Linked DNA regions of Homo sapiens: region 1 is linked to region 2. Evidence: fine-mapped QTL for protein levels in blood plasma. A gene starts in region 2. The other region holds a variant in brackets. All regions are shown on one strand. Distances are between the middles of the regions. Region 1 overlaps GPC1 (glypican 1). Region 2 holds the start of GPC1 (glypican 1).

What was found. PIP is the chance, under the fine-mapping model, that this variant and not a neighbour inherited with it causes the effect. The UK Biobank Pharma Proteomics Project read protein levels with antibody pairs (Olink). The fine-mapping took linkage between variants from a reference panel, not from the people measured, so its PIPs are less certain.
Region 1: its variant is fine-mapped to the plasma level of the GPC1 protein (UK Biobank, PIP above 0.99).

The regions. Positions count from the first base shown.
Region 1 is chr2:240,464,812-240,473,146 of GRCh38, forward strand. GPC1 (glypican 1) reads left to right here. Exons shown (of 9, transcript NM_002081.3): 6 at 45-164; 7 at 266-399; 8 at 662-837; 9 at 1,247-3,265. The coding sequence ends at 1,479. It also overlaps a transcript of ANKMY1 not described here. Among named protein-coding and RNA genes, the nearest start is that of GPC1-AS1, 12 kb to the left of the region's middle. The variant C/T (reference allele first, on the strand shown) is at 3,213.
Region 2 is chr2:240,429,502-240,441,276 of GRCh38, forward strand. It overlaps GPC1 (glypican 1), which reads left to right and starts at 6,162. Exons shown (of 9, transcript NM_002081.3): 1 at 6,162-6,583. The coding sequence starts at 6,418. RefSeq lists enhancers at 4,531-4,825, 5,225-5,801, 7,535-8,111, 8,163-8,664 and silencers at 5,631-6,290, 6,351-6,410.

The DNA.
Region 1 (8,335 bases), 34 kb after region 2:
GAGGGGCCCCACTACCCCCCAAGGACCCTGCAGTGTCTCTCCAGGTCATCCAGGGCTGCGGGAACCCCAAGGTCAACCCCCAGGGCCCCGGGCCTGAGGAGAAGCGGCGCCGGGGCAAGCTGGCCCCGCGGGAGAGGCCACCTTCAGGCACGCTGGAGAAGCTGGTGAGTGGCCCCTGCGTGTCCACTGGACCAGGCATGAGGGAGGCAGACAGGCAGAGGCGGGCGGGCCCTGGCAGCCCAGTGGCCTGACTGCTGCCCCACAGGTCTCCGAAGCCAAGGCCCAGCTCCGCGACGTCCAGGACTTCTGGATCAGCCTCCCAGGGACACTGTGCAGTGAGAAGATGGCCCTGAGCACTGCCAGTGATGACCGCTGCTGGAACGGGATGGCCAGAGGCCGGTAGGTGCCCACCTGGCTGGCACAGCCCTCCCTCCCATGCCGCCTCCATTGGGCTGTGCCTGGGCCAGGTGCTGTCTGCACGGGGCCACGTCCCTTGCTGGAGGGCTTGAGCCCCACTTCTCTGCGGCCTGTGTGGGCTCTGCTCGGTCCCTGGAAGCTGCTGGGCATCTCAGGCTCAGAGCGTGGGAGAGTGTCCTGCTCAGGTGATGGCCCTTTGCAGGGGCTGGAGCAGTGACCTGGGCTCTGCCTGCCTTTCCCCCAGGTACCTCCCCGAGGTCATGGGTGACGGCCTGGCCAACCAGATCAACAACCCCGAGGTGGAGGTGGACATCACCAAGCCGGACATGACCATCCGGCAGCAGATCATGCAGCTGAAGATCATGACCAACCGGCTGCGCAGCGCCTACAACGGCAACGACGTGGACTTCCAGGACGCCAGTGAGGGCAGGGCCTGGCCGGGCGGCCAAGGGGCCAGGGTTGGTGGGGGTGCCACAGGGGTGTGACTGCCCTCCGGGTTCCCCCACCCGAGGGGCCCTCTGCTCCGGCATCACCACAGTGAGTCTGAGGACGCTGTGCTGCCCAGGCACGATCACCGAGCCCTGCACCTCTGCGGCGCCCTGGAGGCCTGGCCGGGATGTCTGTTGGCTTTGGCTCCAGGGACCAAGGGAGGCAGCCCCAGGGAGTGAGAGTCTCCCAGCCTCAGGGGTCAGCGGGGATCAGGTGCTGCTGGTCCTGGGATTCCACACCGAAAGGATGTTGGGGTCACCTGGCACGGGCCCTTACAGGGTGGTGCTGCACTGGGGTCTCCTGTGGGGACCTGCCTGCCGGAGCCTCCTCTCCTTCCCAGGTGACGACGGCAGCGGCTCGGGCAGCGGTGATGGCTGTCTGGATGACCTCTGCAGCCGGAAGGTCAGCAGGAAGAGCTCCAGCTCCCGGACGCCCTTGACCCATGCCCTCCCAGGCCTGTCAGAGCAGGAAGGACAGAAGACCTCGGCTGCCAGCTGCCCCCAGCCCCCGACCTTCCTCCTGCCCCTCCTCCTCTTCCTGGCCCTTACAGTAGCCAGGCCCCGGTGGCGGTAACTGCCCCAAGGCCCCAGGGACAGAGGCCAAGGACTGACTTTGCCAAAAATACAACACAGACGATATTTAATTCACCTCAGCCTGGAGAGGCCTGGGGTGGGACAGGGAGGGCCGGCGGCTCTGAGCAGGGGCAGGCGCAGAGGTCCCAGCCCCAGGCCTGGCCTCGCCTGCCTTTCTGCCTTTTAATTTTGTATGAGGTCCTCAGGTCAGCTGGGAGCCAGTGTGCCCAAAAGCCATGTATTTCAGGGACCTCAGGGGCACCTCCGGCTGCCTAGCCCTCCCCCCAGCTCCCTGCACCGCCGCAGAAGCAGCCCCTCGAGGCCTACAGAGGAGGCCTCAAAGCAACCCGCTGGAGCCCACAGCGAGCCTGTGCCTTCCTCCCCGCCTCCTCCCACTGGGACTCCCAGCAGAGCCCACCAGCCAGCCCTGGCCCACCCCCCAGCCTCCAGAGAAGCCCCGCACGGGCTGTCTGGGTGTCCGCCATCCAGGGTCTGGCAGAGCCTCTGAGATGATGCATGATGCCCTCCCCTCAGCGCAGGCTGCAGAGCCCGGCCCCACCTCCCTGCGCCCTTGAGGGGCCCCAGCGTCTGCAGGGTGACGCCTGAGACAGCACCACTGCTGAGGAGTCTGAGGACTGTCCTCCCACAGACCTGCAGTGAGGGGCCCTCCATGCGCAGATGAGGGGCCACTGACCCACCTGCGCTTCTGCTGGAGGAGGGGAAGCTGGGCCCAAAGGCCCAGGGAGGCAGCGTGGGCTCTGCCAATGTGGGCTGCCCCTCGCACACAGGGCTCACAGGGCAGGCCTTGCTGGGGTCCAGGGCTGTTGGAGGACCCCGAGGGCTGAGGAGCAGCCAGGACCCGCCTGCTCCCATCCTCACCCAGATCAGGAACCAGGGCCTCCCTGTTCACGGTGACACAGGTCAGGGCTCAGAGTGACCCTCAGCTGTCACCTGCTCACAGGGATGCTGGTGGCTGGTGAGACCCCGCACTGCAGACGGGAATGCCTAGGTCCCTTCCCGACCCAGCCAGCTGCAGGGCACGGGGACCTGGATAGTTAAGGGCTTTTCCAAACATGCATCCATTTACTGACACTTCCTGTCCTTGTTCATGGAGAGCTGTTCGCTCCTCCCAGATGGCTTCGGAGGGCCGCAGGGCCCACCTTGGACCCTGGTGACCTCCTGTCACTCACTGAGGCCATCAGGGCCCTGCCCCAGGCCTGGACGGGCCCTCCTTCCCTCCTGTGCCCCAGCTGCCAGGCGGCCCTGGGGAGGGGTGGTGTGGTGTTGGGAAGGGGTCCTGCAGGGGGAGGAGGACTTGGAGGGTCTGGGGGCAGCTGTCCTGAACCGACTGACCCTGAGGAGGCCGCTTAGTGCTGCTTTGCTTTTCATCACCGTCCCGCACAGTGGACGGAGGTCCCCGGTTGCTGGTCAGGTCCCCATGGCTTGTTCTCTGGAACCTGACTTTAGATGTTTTGGGATCAGGAGCCCCCAACACAGGCAAGTCCACCCCATAATAACCCTGCCAGTGCCAGGGTGGGCTGGGGACTCTGGCACAGTGATGCCGGGCGCCAGGACAGCAGCACTCCCGCTGCACACAGACGGCCTAGGGGTGGCGCTCAGACCCCACCCTACGCTCATCTCTGGAAGGGGCAGCCCTGAGTGGTCACTGGTCAGGGCAGTGGCCAAGCCTGCTGTGTCCTTCCTCCACAAGGTCCCCCCACCGCTCAGTGTCAG[C/T]GGGTGACGTGTGTTCTTTTGAGTCCTTGTATGAATAAAAGGCTGGAAACCTACAGCAGGGCGAGGCCTCGGGGGGAGAGAGAATGTGTGCGTATGTGTGTGTGTGTCTGTCTGTCTGGGGCTTGGGCATGGACCACACTTCCGTGTTTGGGGTGAACGTGCAGCCCCTGCCAGCTGCGCCCTTCAGCCTGTCTGCAGCTCCACCTTGCCCTGGACAGACTCCGGTCTGTCCGCCCCTCTCCTTGGTGCAGGGGAGAAGGAAAAGGCCAGGGCACGGAGACCCAGATGGCCTCCAGCAGGCCCCACCTCCCATCTACCTCTTCCTGCCTCCTGCCCCTGCTCTGGGCACACACAGCACAGAGATCCTCTACCCCTGGAAGGTTCTGGTTCCTGCCAGGTGGCCTCAGAGATGCCCAAGGGGCTAGAGAGAAGGAACCAGCATTGTCCCAAGGATGCCCTGGTGGTCCAGTTTGTCCCCAGCCACCTTTCTCTCGAGGCGGAGGGTCCTGTATAACCCTAGGGGCTCCCTATAGCCCCGCTCCTGTTCCTGTGGGGTCATGGCCAGAGGCTAAGTGGCACGGCGGCACTGGCAGAAGCGCCCACTGTTCTGGGTGTGTCCCTCAACTGCTTTATTGAGAATTGCAGCCAGTACAGGTTGGTCTGGTGAACATTTTTAACATTGCGTTTCCATCATCTGGGACCCAGGAATAGAGGGCCCCCTAGCAACTGGGACCTCCAGGCCCCTTGTGAGCGTGAGAGCACAGAGGGGTGGGTGGGCACCCCAGGAGGGAGATGCAGCTCCACCCAGCCCTGCTGAACTCCACTGCTTAGTAGGTCCCAGCTCCGGGCAGGACGAAGGGCTGCACACAGGCCTCCCACAAAGCATCTGCAGCCGCCAGGTCCCTGGTAGCCACGGTCCTCACTTGCAGGCCCCTCCGCAAGTCCCAGAGGCCCGGCTCCTCCCCTGGGAAATGAGGGTGGGGTGGAGTCCTCTCCGTGGCGGGCCAGGGGATGCAGCCTGGGGGCTCAGCGGGGCCCCTAGGGGACAGGTGAGCAGCCAGACACTCATCAGCGGCTGTAGTTGTGGACAACGCATTTGGTCCAGCCGGCAGGATCTCAGGCTTCCAGGCACCACCTTGCCCAGCTGCTTCAAGACTTCCACAAGCCCTTTTTGAACCTGGGCAAATGCATCTTTCATGTCAGGGAAAGGAGGACACAGGTGCGTGTGCACTCTGTGCAGAGCCGACACCACGCCAGGAGTGGGTGGGCAGGGGCACCCGGCTGGTCTCAGCCCTGCCTTCCCGGCCACACCTCAGACCACCAGGGAGCTCCCAAGTTCTGCCCACCCTAGTGCTGCCCCAAGAGGCTGCTCAGGGAGAGACCCCTTCCAGCCAGGGCTGGCTCTCAGTCCCTCTCGGTTCCTCACAGGAATTCCAGAAGCCACAGACAAACTGACCCACCCACACTGATGGGCAGAGAGCAGCCCCTCAGTCAGCCTCCCTTGAGCAGCTCAGCCCAGCCGTGGTGGGTGGCCCCAGCGTCTCCCACACCATCTGCAGGCAGCCCCGGCAGGCCAGCATGGGTGTCTGCTCCACACGAACATACACCCATCACACGGTGCACACACATGCACATGTGCACTCCACATTTACACACACAAACGAACACATACAACACCCTGTACATGCACACACAAGCACACATATCCATACACGTGCACACACTTCTGCACATGCACGTCCTCACATGCCCACATGCCCATGCACATGTGCACACTCCTACACATGTACACACATGCACACACATAGGTATGAACACGTACAATGCCCTGTGCATACACACACAAGCACACATATCCATACACGTGCACACACATCCTCCTGCACATGCATGCACTCACATGTACACATGCCCATACACATGCATGCACATGTGCACAGGCCTATGCACGTGCACACATGTAGACAGGTACACATGCCCATACACACATGCACACATTACATACATGCACAGTATACACGCATGCACTCACACAGAGACAGACACACCCGTGGGTGCACACACTGCTCCTGTCCAGGTGACCCTAAGTATTCTTTATCTGGGGACAAGGCCCTCTGTCGAGAAACACCATTTATAATCGCAGTGCTCCCTTGAGTTTGGGACAGACGACTAACTCCCACCTCTCAGTCCACCTTCCTCCTGCCCTAAGCCACTACTGAAATCATGGAAGGACCATAACTGGGCGTCCATCTCTCCAACAGACAGCATGTGTCACAGCCATCAAAGAAGTGGGTAGAGTCTAGGGAAGGTGGGATTCTGAGAGACCCCAACAAGGCCACCACAGCTTTCCTGAGGGGAAAGCACACAGGCTTCACAGACGCCAGGGCTGTGGATGAGCCGGAGGCAGTCACTGCCCAGCAAGCTCTCCCCGTGTGCACAGCAGCCCCTCCCAGATGAGACCACCCCACAAAGCAAAACCAGTGAGTCTAAACATTTCCCTCCTTCTTTCATATGGCCTGGAAATATGAACAGGAACCCTCATGGTTTCTAGCACAAACCCATGTTTACACTCAATCTGGGAAAGCACAAAAAAAGAGCCAGTAAAAAACTCATAGGAGACGTCAAAATATGCAGCATCGGCCTGGGAAGTCAGACCAAGCGTCCTGATGTGAGAATTAAAAGAAACAGGAGGAAACACTGGGAAATGTTGACTTTGAAAAGATCACAGCAACACAGTAGACTCAGCTAAAATAACCCCCTCTCCTCACAGACACGTTGAAATTCTGGAAAAAGTCAGTTTCGCAAAGTTAATACCTATCTGAGGTCACAGGAGAGCTAAAAACCTCATGTGCTGAAAAGAAAAACAAAGTGAGAGGCTTCAATGAATGGGAAGTGGGGAGAGTGGTGTATCAGGCACAGAAATACCCTCTCAGGATAGAAGCTTGGGGTGAGGGGTACCCACAGACCTGGGTGAGGGCTGGGAGCTGGAACTGGAACCCCAGGTGACCTGGAAACCGCAAAGAAACGAAGTTCTCCCTATTGCCAGAGATGGGCCAGGGAAGCTTTTGCTGCCTAGGGATCTGGGCAGGAAAAAAAAAATCCTCCTTTTTGAAGAATCAGTGGCTGGTGACAAAAGATAATGAGTAAATACAAAAGTACCTAGAGGGTTTGTCCACAGTGAGGAAGTGAGATTCCCTCAGAGAAATCACAACGCCTCAGGGACAGGAACTCAAATTCTTTTTTTTTTTTTTTTTGAGACAGAGTATCTGTCTGTCACCAGGCTGGAGTGCAGTGGTGTGATCTCAGCTCACTGCGACCTCTGCCTCCCGGGTTCAAGCGATTCTCCTGCCTCAGCCTCCCAAGTAGCTGAGATTACAAGATTCTTTAAAATTTCAAAATGAAAAAATAAAATAAAATCTGCCACCAGAGCCAGCAGCACCCTGAGAACTTTAGATGACAGAGCAAACTGAAATGGTCTATAAAATAAGTATTTTGTGTTATCAAAGCGAAAAGGGGGAGAAATAGAAACCATAAGGATAGAACAATTCCATTTTTAAAAAGAAAAAACAAGGAGATTGGAAAAAGTACCAAGTGGAAGTAATGTCAGCAAGATGGCAGAACAGGGGACCCCCTGCTTTTAGCCACCCATTGCAACAAGAATTTGGCAGCCATCCACACACAAAAGTGCCTTCGTGGGAGCCTCAGGACTCTGGTAGGAGGCTGGGAAATCCTGATGGAGCCCAACTGAGAAGGGCTGTTTTAAGAGGGCAGGTTTGCACCCAGGTTGCAGCTCGCCAAATGGGGTCCTTTGCAGATCCAGAAATGGCCTCATCCCCCTATGGACTCAATGGCAGCCTTGTTTGGCTCTCCTGACACAGGAACCATCTGCCCAGGGATCTCCTGGAAGATACCCCAGTCCATCCCCCCTGAAGGCAGGCCCACCAACCTTGGTTCCACTGCAGATCCCGAAATAGCCCTGTAAGTCAGCTCCAACCCCTCAGCTGCAGTCTGAAAGCAGTCCTGCCTTCCCAAGGACGTGCTGGGAGACACTCGTCTGAGTTAGGCCACAAAATCCCAAAAGAAGTGTTGAAATGGTTCTGAGTTTACTCCATCCTTCCCCAGTCACAGTCCTGGAGCGGTCCTGCCCACCCAGGGATACTGAGACAAGCCCAGCTGTACGCTGGGAGGCAGGCCTACCAATCCACGGCCGCACGCGGGGAGGCAGGCCTACCAATCTACGGCCGCACGCGGGGAGGCAGGCCTACCAATCTACAACTGCACAGGCTGAAGGAGCCCTGTGACCCAGCTCCAGCCCCACTCTGCCATGGTCTGAAGGCAGTCCTGCCCTCCCCAAGAACCTGACAGGAGGCATGCCCATCTGTGCCCCCAAAGGCAGGCCTACAGACCTCAGTCTCAGCTGTGAGCCTTAAACCAGCCTTGTGACTTGGTTTCATCTCCTTTTAACCACAGTCTGGGGTCAGTCCTGCCTGTCAGGGACTCACGCAGTGACTGAGTGCACCCTTGTCCCAGAGCTAGCCCTGTTCCTCAAGGTCTTAGAGGCAGTCCAGTCTGCCCAGGGACCAGACATGTTCAATGCCTGCTCCTTCCCTGAATAGACTCACCAACCACAAACCCCACTGTAGACTCAGCAGCAGCCATGTGACTAAACTAATCCTGGAGGCAACCCTTCAGAGACCCAACAGATCTTTATCTGCCAAAAATCAGTCTGTAAAGGCTGAAAGAGGTGTTTGCTGCTTCAAATTGAGACACCAATGCAAGGCTCTATGAATAATAAAGAATCAGGCCAACATGATGCCACAGCTGGGCATGGTGGCTCATGCCTGTCATCCCAGCACTTTGGGAGGCTGAGGCAGGTAGGTTGCTTGAGGTCAGGAGTTCGAGACCAGCCTGGCCAACACGGTGAAACCTCGTCTCTACTAAAAATATAAAAATTAACCAGACATGGTGGTGCATGCTTGTAATCCCACTACTCAGGAGGCTGAGGTGGGAGAATCTCTTGAACCCGGGAGACGGAGGCTGCAGTGAGCTGAGATTGTGCCACTGTACTCCAGCCTGGGCGACAAGAGTGAAACTCTGTCTAAAAAAAAAAAAAAAACAAAAAA
Region 2 (11,775 bases):
TGAGGCCCAGAGGCCAGGTGTCTAAGCCTCCCTTGGCCGCCCTCCCTGGGCCGCAGCCCCAGGTCTGGGGAGCACTTTGGCCTGAGGCCCTCTGGAAGGGCAGGGCTTCCCTCTGTCACCTTCTCAGGATGCCTTTGCCAGACTTTCGTTGAAGGTAGGGGACCAAGGCCAGGTGGGCTGGTCAACGCCACCTTTAGGGAGGGGCCTCGCCACCACTAGTGCCTGCCCACTCCCCAGCACGGGTGGGCCAGCCAGAGCTGACCCGATGTGGCTGAGCTTGGCTGTAGGTGTGACCCATGGGCCAGGCCATGGTTGCAGGGTGTGGTCAGGGCCTCTCCTCCTCCCTGGTCCTCAGCCGTTGTCTACGGCTTCAGCCTCTCCTCCTCCCAAGTCCTCGGCTGTGTCTTGTTCCAGCCCCCCTCCTCCTTCCCTCCCTGGACACTCCCACTGTGTCCAGGAGGGCCCTGCAGCTGCCTTCACCTCTGGTTGTGCCGGTGGCTGCAGGGCAAATAAAACCAACCCTTCCCCCATCCCCCTCCCCAGGGACCAGGCAGCCTGTCCCTGTCCCCAGAAGAGGCCTTGCACCACCCCTTCCCTCCCACAGGCCTCAGGGGCTCCCTTGCCCTTCAGCCGTCCAACGCTCAGGACACCTGTCCCCTGCCACCTAGCGGGGCATTACTATTGCACAGAGAAACAGACACTCGGATGCGGCAGTTTCGCCTCCTCAGGAAAATAGGATTCCCAGAGAGGACCAGCAGGCCAGGGAGGCTACAGTCCTCCCTCAGCTGCACCATGCAGGTGCCTCTCTCGCCTGTGACTCAGCCTCACCTGCCAAGGTTGCAAGACCCTGCTCGGTGGGCCCTGGCAAGGCCTCCCCCTTAGGAGACGGCTCTTCCACTGAGCCCCTGGATTCCCTCCCACCCAGCGCAGGCCGGCGGCACACAGGGCAGGCCACTGTGAGCACTCTGGCTGCTCTAGGCCCTGACACAGTACAGGCCTGTGTCCTCCGCAGCCAGGTGTGCAGGCCCCCAACCCCCCCCACCCCCAGCCCATGGCTTGCCAGCCAGGGCCATGGAAGCCACAGCCACCTCCCCACATGCAGGCTGGTGGCTCCTGCCCAGGAGGACAGATGCCTGCTGTCTTGTTCTCTGGTCTTCCAGAGAAAAGGTTGGCTGAAGAGGGTGCCCCGGCCATGTTCCTGTCACCAACTGGACAACTCCCCTCAAAGGGCCTTGAGCATCCCAGGACACCCTCCCCAGGAGCAGGGAAGGTTGGGAGTGTGGCGTGGACAGTGCCACCCTTCCAGGCCAGCATGGTCCAGAGGCAAACCCTTACCTGCAGAGCAGCTCAGAGGATGCCTCCAGTTGGCCTCACCCTGGAAACGGCTCTTTGCTTTGGGGACCAAGCAAGCTCTTCAGACAAGCCTGCAGAAGGGCAGTGGGAGGCGGGACAGGGCCACAGTCCGACCCCCTCAGACCTTAGGAGCCTCATCTACAGGGAAATGAAACCCTTCAACTCCAGACCTCTGGAGCTGAAGGCAACTTTAGGCCTTCCCTAAGCTTAGGGGAAGGTTTGAGGTGACCCTGGAATCTGAATGGGGAGGGGAAGAACGTTCAGCTTCCTGGACCCCTTGAGAGGAGGGGGAGGCTCAGGGGCTCCTGCACTGTGGCTGAGGGCAGCTGCATTCTGATCTTCAGAGTCCTTGCAGGCTTCGGATTGAAGCTGGTTTTCAAATGATCAGCCAGGCAGTATGGACTGCAGGAGGAATAGGTCAAAAGCCAGCAATGGTCCAGAAGGGGAGAGGTGGAGGGAAGGGCAGGAGCCACACACAGAGCAGACAGGACCTGGCAGGAAAGCCATGAGCTGCTGGTGCTGGGGACACCAAAGCGTGCACGTGGGTCTCTGAGCTCCAGGTGTGTGGGGTGCTTTGTCCTAACATAGCAGACAGTGCCGGAGTGCCCCCATCTGCTCCCTCTCCTCAAGGAGACCAGGCCAAGAGTCAGGGTGGGGAGGGGCAGGAAAACAGCCACAGGGAAGGCCAAACCCAGCTCAGCCCAGAGTGGAGTGTTTGGGGTCATCTCTTGCTACCAGGGTCCTCAGACTAGAGAAACAGGTGCCAGCTCTTGGAGGGGCCACAGGTGCATTCTTCTGACCCCACCTACCACACGGGTGACCCAGCCTCACTGAAAAGGCTTGCTCTCCTCTGACCTGGATAAGGGAGGCCAGCCCAGACTTCTGCTGATCAAAAGGACCCAGCAGAGCAGAGCAGGCTCCAAACAGCTTCACCTTCAAGTTGACTGCCCCACGGCAGGGGCTTGGAGAGAGGTGGAGGGAGGTGCAGGTATGACCTCCTTTGAGAATAATGGTGCCAGGTTTTCTCAGTCCTGCAAACTCTGCCCAGCTGGCGCCCTTGTCCACCCACCCTCACTGCCCAGTGGCAGCCCCTAAGTTGGGGAAGCCAGGGCAGCCCTAGGGTTCAGACTCAAAGCCGAACTCCTGTAGATTAGGGTCCTGGCTCAGGGCTGGAAGACCTTCCAGGGTACCACTGAGTGTCCAGGCAGAGCAGGGACCAGCACCCCACCTCACAGACCCCACACGAGTACAATCCTGCAGGGTCGTCTGGAGCCGAGCTCCTTCATGAGATGACAGCGGCTCCCTGAGCCAGCACCAGAATGAGAGACCGGATGAATGTTCCCCAAGTGTCACCACCAAAAGGCAGGGCAGGAAGCACGGGGTGAGCTGGAGGTGGAGTCCATGGGCCAGAGCAGGCCCTGGGGCAGATCCCCTCCCCATCGCTAAGCCCTGTAGAGCTGCCCAGAGCCCCGCTTCTTTCTGGCAGGCACCCTGATTACCATTTGCAGAAAGATCTCCAGCTCTGCAGGCAGGCTGTCCTGCCCACCCTGCTCTGCCCAGGGCTGCCAGCCACTCCTGGGGACCATGTTCCCTTCATCAGCCACATGCTGGGGTATCCACTTCCTCCTTCAGGCTGCTGCCCAAGGGGTCCCCAGACCCCCACAGAGGTGTGGGGACCCTACATCCTCCACTATGCCCCAGGGCACCAAAACACCTCCTGGGTGCTCTAACAGATCAGATGCCACATCCCAGCCAGCCCTAGTCCACGCCCTTGAACCCCTGCTGTCTGCAGGCACACGCGCGCACTCCTGCCTCCCACGGCCAGTAGGACAGGGCTCTCGTAGGTAGGGATGCTACAGGCAGTGACATTCACAAGAAGGCAGCCATGGATGGCAGCGACAACAATCGCTCAGTCTGTTTGGAAACTTACTTTTGGAGTCTCCGAAAGACAATCCCTGAAACCAAACAGAAAGGGAAGCTGTCCGTCCATGGCAGCGGGCAAGGGCGTGCACACTCACGAGGGTTCCACGGAGCAAAAGTAGGATAATTTCTGGGCAGACCTGCCGTCCGAACGGCTGGGAGCTGCGGGCCCCCCGGCGCTCCCTGTGTCTTCTGAGCAGAGACCAGGCTCAGCATCCCGCAGACCCCCACCCTCCCTAGGCAGAGGCAGGAGTGGGCCCTAAGCCAGCAGTACACGCCCTCCAGGACCTGGGGTCCTCCACAGAAGATGGGGGCATGGAAGGGAGGCCCCCACGCCCTGGCCCAACAGGCACTGCCTGCCTCAGCCCGTCAGACAATGCTAAGTGTCCTCTGCCCTCACTGCACCTGTGGAAGAGCAGGTCCAGGCTGCGCCACACGCCCACTCTCAGGGACAAACTTTTCCTCTCAGGTGTTTCCTCACTTGCTCATTCATTCCTTCTTTGTGTCGCATACGTGTGCCCCCACTGTCTAGCCAGGCAAAGACACCAAAGCAGGAGGGGGTGGTCTTGGTCAGAGCCACAAGGGTCACTGTGGTGGCTGGGATTCGAGGCATCAACTATGTCCTCAAACCCATCCACGTGTCCTGTGTGGAGCGGCCCCAGGGACAGCGGTGGAAGAGGGGGCTGATCAGCCTTGCCCATCCTCCCAGAGTCCCAGTCTGGACCCTGCACCCGACTAGCACGGGCAGCCTGGCGGCTCCTGCCCTGGTGACAGCGGGCGTGTGCAGCATTGCCAGGAGGGAAGCAGGGGTAGCTGCAGCTGCTCAGGATCCTGCGGCTCCTCCCAGGTGCAAACACGGCTTTTGCTTCCAATGCCCCCGGCGGCATGTGCATCCTCTCCAGGGAAGGCCCTGGCTACAGGTCTCCTGGCCTGCGGAATGGGAATGATTCCAGGACCTGCGATGGTGGTAAGGACTTCCTTAGGAGATGAAGCCACCCAGGGGTCACCAGGGCCAGGCAGAGGCTGCCACCATCGCGTTCTAAGCCCTGCTGTCCACACTGCCATCCAGAGGCCCAGAACTAGGCTGGAGGAAGGACTTGCCTGGAGGAATAACCCAACCTGGTCAGATTAAGAGGAGGCGTAGACAGTGACGGGGTAACTATAGAGCCTCAGGCCGGGTTAACCTCAAGTCCAGCTTCCTAGGCCCAGGCAGCCCTGCCTGATCCCGCAGTGCGTGAGACCACACAGAGAGAGAGCGGGATCGTGGGCCCAGGCTCCTGACCGTGCTGGATAAGGTGTGCAGGCAGCCACGCCAGGCCCAGGCAAGAAGGAGCAAGCCTGGAGCATGTACTGAACAGGGGTCTGTGAGTCACAAAATGTGACGCAGCAGAGGGTATGTGGGGGAGGGCAGGGAAATGCACACTTGGATTGGGTCCCCAAAGCCTCCCTCTCCAGCAATGACTCAGTGTCTCTGGGTGAAGGAGCAACCTTCTCTGGGAGGCAGGGCAGGAAACCCCAAGAGCCCAGGGGGAGGGCACCCCACCTTCCTGCTCCAGCCCCACACAGCGGCTGAGAGCCCCAGGCACAGAAGGGGTAGGGAATGTTGCCACCACCCCCACCACGGACCCCGCTGCAGCTTCCAGGTGATGCCACAGGCCCTGAAATCAGGACACCCTTGCTGTACATGGGGGTCATCTTGAGGTTCTCTGCCAAGGATACTGACCTCTATGCCTGCCCCCAATTCTGCAGCTCAGGCACCTGGCTTCACCGCCAGGCCTTACCATGTGGAGAACAGGGGGCCGGGGTGGGGGGTCTGGGAGCCAAGGAAGGAGTGAAGCCCTCCAGACACCAACATCGCAGTCCTCGCCCCCTCCCTACAGACCCCATCCAGCCCAACTCCCCATGTGCAGCTAAAGCCACGCGCCCTCCTACCATACAAGGTGCAGGCAGCCCTCCCGCCTTCTTCAAAGAGGCATCTGCTCCGGCTCACTCCACCCTCCTCCCCCAGTGGCCTAACTAGTCGCCGGGTTCCAACCCTATCCCTTCTCCAGAGGTCATCTGGCCCCACCCAGCAGCCCAAACCAGTAGACCGGCCCTGCCCCATCACTTTGGTTTCTCCAGCATCCAAAGAACGTGGAGGGTCACCCCCCCAAAACAGCTGTCAAGGTCCAACAATTAAGCCATCTGTTGCCGCTCCCTGGGACTGGGAGAGGTGAGGTCGAGTTTCTTGGCGAGTTTCCTGCGTGCAGCCCCCACACCACAAAAGCCCCCGGTGCGAGCCGGAGCCCAGCGCGAGACGGCTGGAAGGGCGCGGGGAGGGAGCCGCTGCGGGGTGCAGGCGGGGAGAGGGGCGGCGGCTCGAGGCGCGGCCGGCGGGCGGAGGGTACGGAGGCGCCGGGAGAGCGTTCTCGGGGCGCGCTGCCAGGGTGCAGGAAGCCGGAGCGCGCGGGAGGGAGCGGGGAGCGGGATGCCGATTTCGGCTGGGGGCGGGGAGGCCCCTGATTGGGGCGCGGGAGGCGTGATGTCACGTCCGGCGGGGGAAGCCCTGCCTCGCGCACCCTCCGCCCCCGTCCCCGCCCCCACAGGTGGTGCCACCGCCCTGGGCGCTGGGCGTGGGGGGCCGCCCTCGGGGACCCCGGCCGCGGCCCCGCGCTGCCCGGCTCCGCCGCCTCCCGCCGGGGATCGATAGAGTCGCGCGGCCAGGCGGGCCCTCTGGGTCCCTAAGAGCCAGAGGAGCGCCCAGTGCGCCCCGGCCCGCGCCCCCGCGCCGCGCCCCGCCCCGCCCCGCCCGGTGCTCCCAGTCCCTCCCCCACCCCTGCGCTCCCACCCTGCCCCGCCCCTCTCCTCTCCCGCGGCCGCCTAGGGGCCGGGCCGGCGGCGGGGGAGGCGCCGAGCCGGGACTGCGCTAGCCCGCCGCGCTCTGGGCTGCCCGAGCGAGCGTTCGGACCTCGCACCCCGCGCGCCCCGCGCCGCCGCCGCCGCCGGCTTTTGTTGTCTCCGCCTCCTCGGCCGCCGCCGCCTCTGGACCGCGAGCCGCGCGCGCCGGGACCTTGGCTCTGCCCTTCGCGGGCGGGAACTGCGCAGGACCCGGCCAGGATCCGAGAGAGGCGCGGGCGGGTGGCCGGGGGCGCCGCCGGCCCCGCCATGGAGCTCCGGGCCCGAGGCTGGTGGCTGCTATGTGCGGCCGCAGCGCTGGTCGCCTGCGCCCGCGGGGACCCGGCCAGCAAGAGCCGGAGCTGCGGCGAGGTCCGCCAGATCTACGGAGCCAAGGGCTTCAGCCTGAGCGACGTGCCCCAGGCGGAGATCTCGGGTGAGTGAGGGCGCGGCGCCGGGAACCCGGGCCTGGCCGGGCTTTGGGCTCCGGACCCTGGTCTTCCCGACGCGGCTACTCGCCCCCGGCGCGGGATCCTGCCGCCTGCGCCCCGCCGCCCGGGCCCCGAATGGCTCCCTGCGCTGCGGCTCCTCTGCAACCCCACGGCCCTCGCCTCCAAGCCCCGCGCCGCACTCCCTCGCCAGGGTCTCCTCCGCCCCGCTCGGTCGTCCTCCGCCCCTCCCCGCCCCCCGCACGCCGGCTTCTTCCCTGCGGAGCTGATCTCGCCGGGCTGCGGGCTCGGGGCGCTCCTCCCGGGCCACGGCTGGAGCTGGGCGTCTTCTGCCCGCCGCTCGGCCCAGCGCGCCTGCAGGCCGGGAGTCCCAGCCCCGGGGCCGGCTGTCGGGGCGCTGTGGGGCTCGGCGTGGCCGGGCTTTCGGGGCGCCGCTGACGGTGGCCGCGGACCCCTTCTGCTCTGTACAGACCTCTCTGGGAGGCGTCTCCGGTCCTGCCCGGGGATTCTCGTAGGGTCTCCAGCAAAGGCAGCCTAGGTGGGTTTTATAAGCTGACCCCCTCGGGGGGTAGTGCGGAGGGGTGGGGAGGGAGCTGGGCACTTATCCGCGGGCGGAACGCCGCCGCCTCGTAGAGATTCCTGTCGAAGAACTTGTACGCGCCGGCCCCCGCCTGGCGCTTGGGCAGCCTCGTGCCGCGAGTCCAGCTGCAGGTGGTCGGCGCGTTGGATCCCGCCCAGGGGCCGTGTCATTTCTTTGTAAGAACAGCGGCCCTCTTGGCGCCCCCTAAGCCCTGCAGCCGCCTGCGGCTCTGCCTCTTCCCTCCCTGTGGTCCCGGAGGAGCTTTGGGGACAGAAGTGTACGGGTGGGTGGAACGGTGGGCTCCGTGTGCTAAGGAACTCTTGGAACCCAAGCTTCACCTTTCCACGTGTGGGAACCAACCTCGGTCTGTACCGCGTGCCAGGGACCCAGTGGGCAAGAACAAAACAGACTAGGTTCCTGCTCTGGGGGGCTCCTCTGAAACCAGGGGAGTGGGAGTGCGGGTGGAGGGCTACTCAGATGGGGACTCAGCGCAGAAATGCCCATGGTCCTGGGGATTCTGAGCAAGAAGGATCCGTGCATCTGGGTGAGGGGGGTCTGTGGCCATGCCTTGCCGCGGGGGGCGGAGTGGTGGGAGGAGGCAGTCGGGCTCTGGACCCCTGCCCCTCCAGGAGGAACAGAACCCACAGACAGCCCCTTGCCCTTGGTGGATCTCCCGATGCCCCCAGCCTGAGGTTCTTGTAAGGGCCCCCTGACCGCCCCCCACAGAAGGAACAGAACCCGCAGACAGTCCCTTGGCGGATCTCCCGATGCCCTCCCCACCAGCCTGAGGTTCTTGCAAGGACCCCTCCAAAGTCCCCAGGACAGGCCTTCCTGTGCCTCTGCAGAGGCAACCCTGTCATTTCCAGGCTGCCCCCCTCACCCCACTGGGCTCTGTCTGTCCCAGGTAGGGGGCACACCTGGATGCCAGGCAGCACAAGGCCCTCGGCACAGTTGGGTTCGTTCTCTGCCCCTCTACTCACACATAAAGAGGCATCCCTGGCCTTCCTGGTGAATCCCTCCCCAGGCACCAGGGTAGCAGAGTGGCTGAGTGGCTGCCCCTCCCAGCCCAGAGTCTTGAACCCTGCTCCTTTGGAAACCATTAGCCCCCAGCCCTTCTTAGCACCTCCATGTCCTCTGGGCAGTTGCATCCTTAGGAGCCAACCTAACCTTCCTTGCATCCACAGGCCACTGTTGCCAGTTAGAGAGACAGAGTGGCAGAGTTTGGCCATCTCCCAAGGGTGAGAAGAGAGGGCAGGACAAGATGGAGAAGTTGATGTGGGGCTGGGCCAGAGAGTGTGGGTCGTGCTGCTCTTGGGTTGGGGAATGCAGTGGGTTAGGGACCCAGGACAGGCAGATTGTGTTGATTTCTCTGTGTCTGATGGGGCAGGGGATGCTGTCCACCCCGCGTGGGGAGTACGAACGCCCTGCAGCTGTCTAACCACGGTGCCAGCCATGGGCCAGTGCCTGCTGCCAGGGCTCGGGGTGCCACCCTCCTCCAGACTTGCAAGGCCAGGACTGCACTGGGCAGGATTACTGCCTCTCCAGTCGGTGCCCCTCCGACAGGAACCTCTCTCCCTGCACCCCCTATGGCTGCAGAAGTGGGGAGTAACCTTCGGGACCCAGGGTACAGAAGACAGTGTGGGAGCCACGTGGGCTGAGGGAAACAGGGTGACTCCCTCGGGTCGCAGCAGTCCTGGGGCAGCCAAGCCCAGTGTCCCCTCCTGCTTTGTCGGCTGGGCCTGGGCTCCGTGGAACGGGCGCCCTCTGGTGGCCCCTGGGCGGCAGATCCTCCCAGGAGCCCTGGACCCTCTGTGGCCTAGTAGGCACCATTCTCAGTCCCCTCTCTCCTGCATCCAGACTTCTCCAGGGGGACCTCCTCAGAGGGAATGCGAACCCCCTGGGGTTGGGCACCTCGCTGGCCCGGAGCAGGTGGGGTAGAGATCTGATACTTCCTCGTGGGAAGGAGAGCAGTTGGCCCTGGGTGTGTGGCGGGCCTTCCCAGCCTCTGCCCCAGGGACCAGAAAAGGCAGTGGGTGACAGGAGACTTAGCTCATGAAAGAGGGCAGTGTCGGGACATATTGGGCTCCCTTTTGAGACTTCCTTTGTCCTCTGGACAGCCAGGCCAGGCTGCAGTGACAGCAGTGGTCATCCCATTTTATGGGCAAGGAAGCAGGCCTGGGTGCCACCAGCTGGACGGTGGCACTGCAGCAGGGCACCCGGCCACCCTCCCTTTATGCCAGGGCACGGCACAGAAGGCAAGGGCGGAGCCGAGTGGCACCCCGGGTGCCCCTGCGCTGCCAGGAGCCCTCATGCTGAATCACTGCCCGCGTGCCAGCAGGCCTCCTGCTTTTGCTTGCAAGGTTGTGTCTGGGCATAGGTGTTCCCAGAGCACCTGTCTGGCCTCCTGATGTCTGATGTGATGTGATGTGTGTCTGTTTGCTCCTTTGCTGGGGTCTCAGCGCCCCACCTTGGCACCTGAGCTCCCTGGTCGCTGGGACCACCTCTAACTGTTTCCCTGTTGTAGCCACAGAACCCGGCTGGCTCCCGGCCCAGGATAGCTTCTCGGAGGACACCCCCAGGCCTTCCTGGCTTTATACCTGGCTGTGCTGGGTGGGGAGCGGGACATGGAGGGTAGAGGAGGGTCTCCTTGGAGCAGACACCCCTGTTCTCAGGGTCTCCCAGCCTGAGGCAGAGGAGGGGCCCTAAGGTCTAGTTTTGGGGGCAGAAGTCAGAGTGGGGCATGGGACTGTCGGTGGCACAGAAACTGCCCAGCCGCTCCTGTGCCCAGAGTGGCAGCCCGCCTACCAGCTGGAGCGGGCACCAGCGTGCCCTGGAGCCTGTACCAAGCACCCACTCGTTGGGCCCCTCCGAAGGAATCTTTTCTTCTCTGTGCCACTTTTGACCGCCTGGGTGGTTGGCACACAGACTCTGGGGAACCATCCTCAGAGGGCCTGGACCTCTCCTTCCCACATCCCTGAAAGGGTGTTTCCGGCTGGGCCCGGGAGAGCCCACCAGCATCTGCTTCTCAGTCCTGCTCAGCGGGCCTCTCGGAGGCTGCCTGGCACACAGCCCCTCACCAGACCAGACAGTTCCCTGTGCCCTGTCCTGTCCAGGTGGCTCAGCGTGGTTCCCAGGTGGTCCTCAGCCTTTGCTGTGTCGCTGCTCTTCCCTCCATGAGAGGAGCTCATCATCCCCAGCGTGAGGACCGAGCGGAGCCCAGGGGAGCCCTGATCCGACAGGGCCACCTGCGTGATGCAATGGCCTGGGTCCCTGCTGGACCGCCAAGCCTCCCATGCCAGGCAGGCCACAGCACTCCTCAGGCACAGATGCCCCCACCCCCATCCCATCCCCGGTGTCCCCGGGCCTTTTCACAGGAGAGAAAGGGAATAATCGTGACCTCCTGTGAAGGTGGCCAGGAGGGAGAAGGTGCTGGGGCTGTGCACCTCGTGGGCAGCCTCGGGCTGTGTCCCCCCTCTCCCCGGACACCCTCTGCAAAGGCCCACACACACCCCTCTCAGTTAATGGCATCCGGTACCCTAAGAGCACTCATGAACCCGGGTGCTCTTAGAACACGGGGAAACCCGGCTTGTGGAGCGTTTCCCATGACTGTCTGGTTAACACATCAGACGGAAGGGGTCTTTGTAGACCTGTTTTACAAATGAGTAAACCGAAGCCTGGTGAAGCGCTCCTCTTAGGGCCAGATCTGGCTACAGCATTGACCACTGCCCAGTAAAGCCAGGCCAGGCTGCTTGTCCCAGGCTCTGCACTTCTTGGAAGGCTCGTGCTTTTCCCAGCCCGCTCTCCTGTCCTGGGCCTGGGCTCCATCTCTTAGGCTCATTTAGAACGTTTAACCGGGACTCCTCCTGGCCTCCCTGCCTCCGGTCCTGCCCAGCTCCTCCTGGCCTCCCTGCCTCCGGTCCTGCCCAGCTCCTCCTGGCCTCCCTGCCTCCGGTCCTGCCCAGCTCCTCCTGGCCTCCCTGCCTCCGGTCCTGCCCAGCTCCTCCTGGCCTCCCTGCCTCCGGTCCTGCCCAGCTCCTCCTGGCCTCCCTGCCTCCGGTCCTGCCCAGCTCCTCCTGGCCTCCCTGCCTCCGGTCCTGCCCAGCTCCTCCTGGCCTCCCTGCCTCCGGTCTTGCCCAGCTCCTCCTGGCCGTGCCGCCCAGAGAGTCGTACTTCCACACAGCTGGGCCTCACCCTCCGGCCTGGCTCCACTGCCTGTGGGGGGCAGGACTGCTAGGAGGGCTGTTCCCAGCGTGTGCCACGAAGCCCTGCATGTCCCCAACAGGGCAGACCAGCCACCCACACTGGGCCAAGTGCCCCAGGATTAGTGGACAGGTACCCTATTCAGGTGCCCACAGGTGCCAAGCCAGGGAGATAAGGCAGTCCAGTCTGTTGGGGCTTGTACCTTCACACCAGCAATCTCTAGGGACAGTGTGAGCCTGTGGTTAACGCGCCTTCCCAGGTACCGAGGACGCCTCCCTACAGCAGGACGGGGGGCATACCTACCTGGTGGCCGAACCGCAGGGCTGCACATCAGACCTCGGAGGAGAGCTTAGTGGGTGTCTGAGCATGCCCATGTCTGTTCTATGGCATCCATGTGCA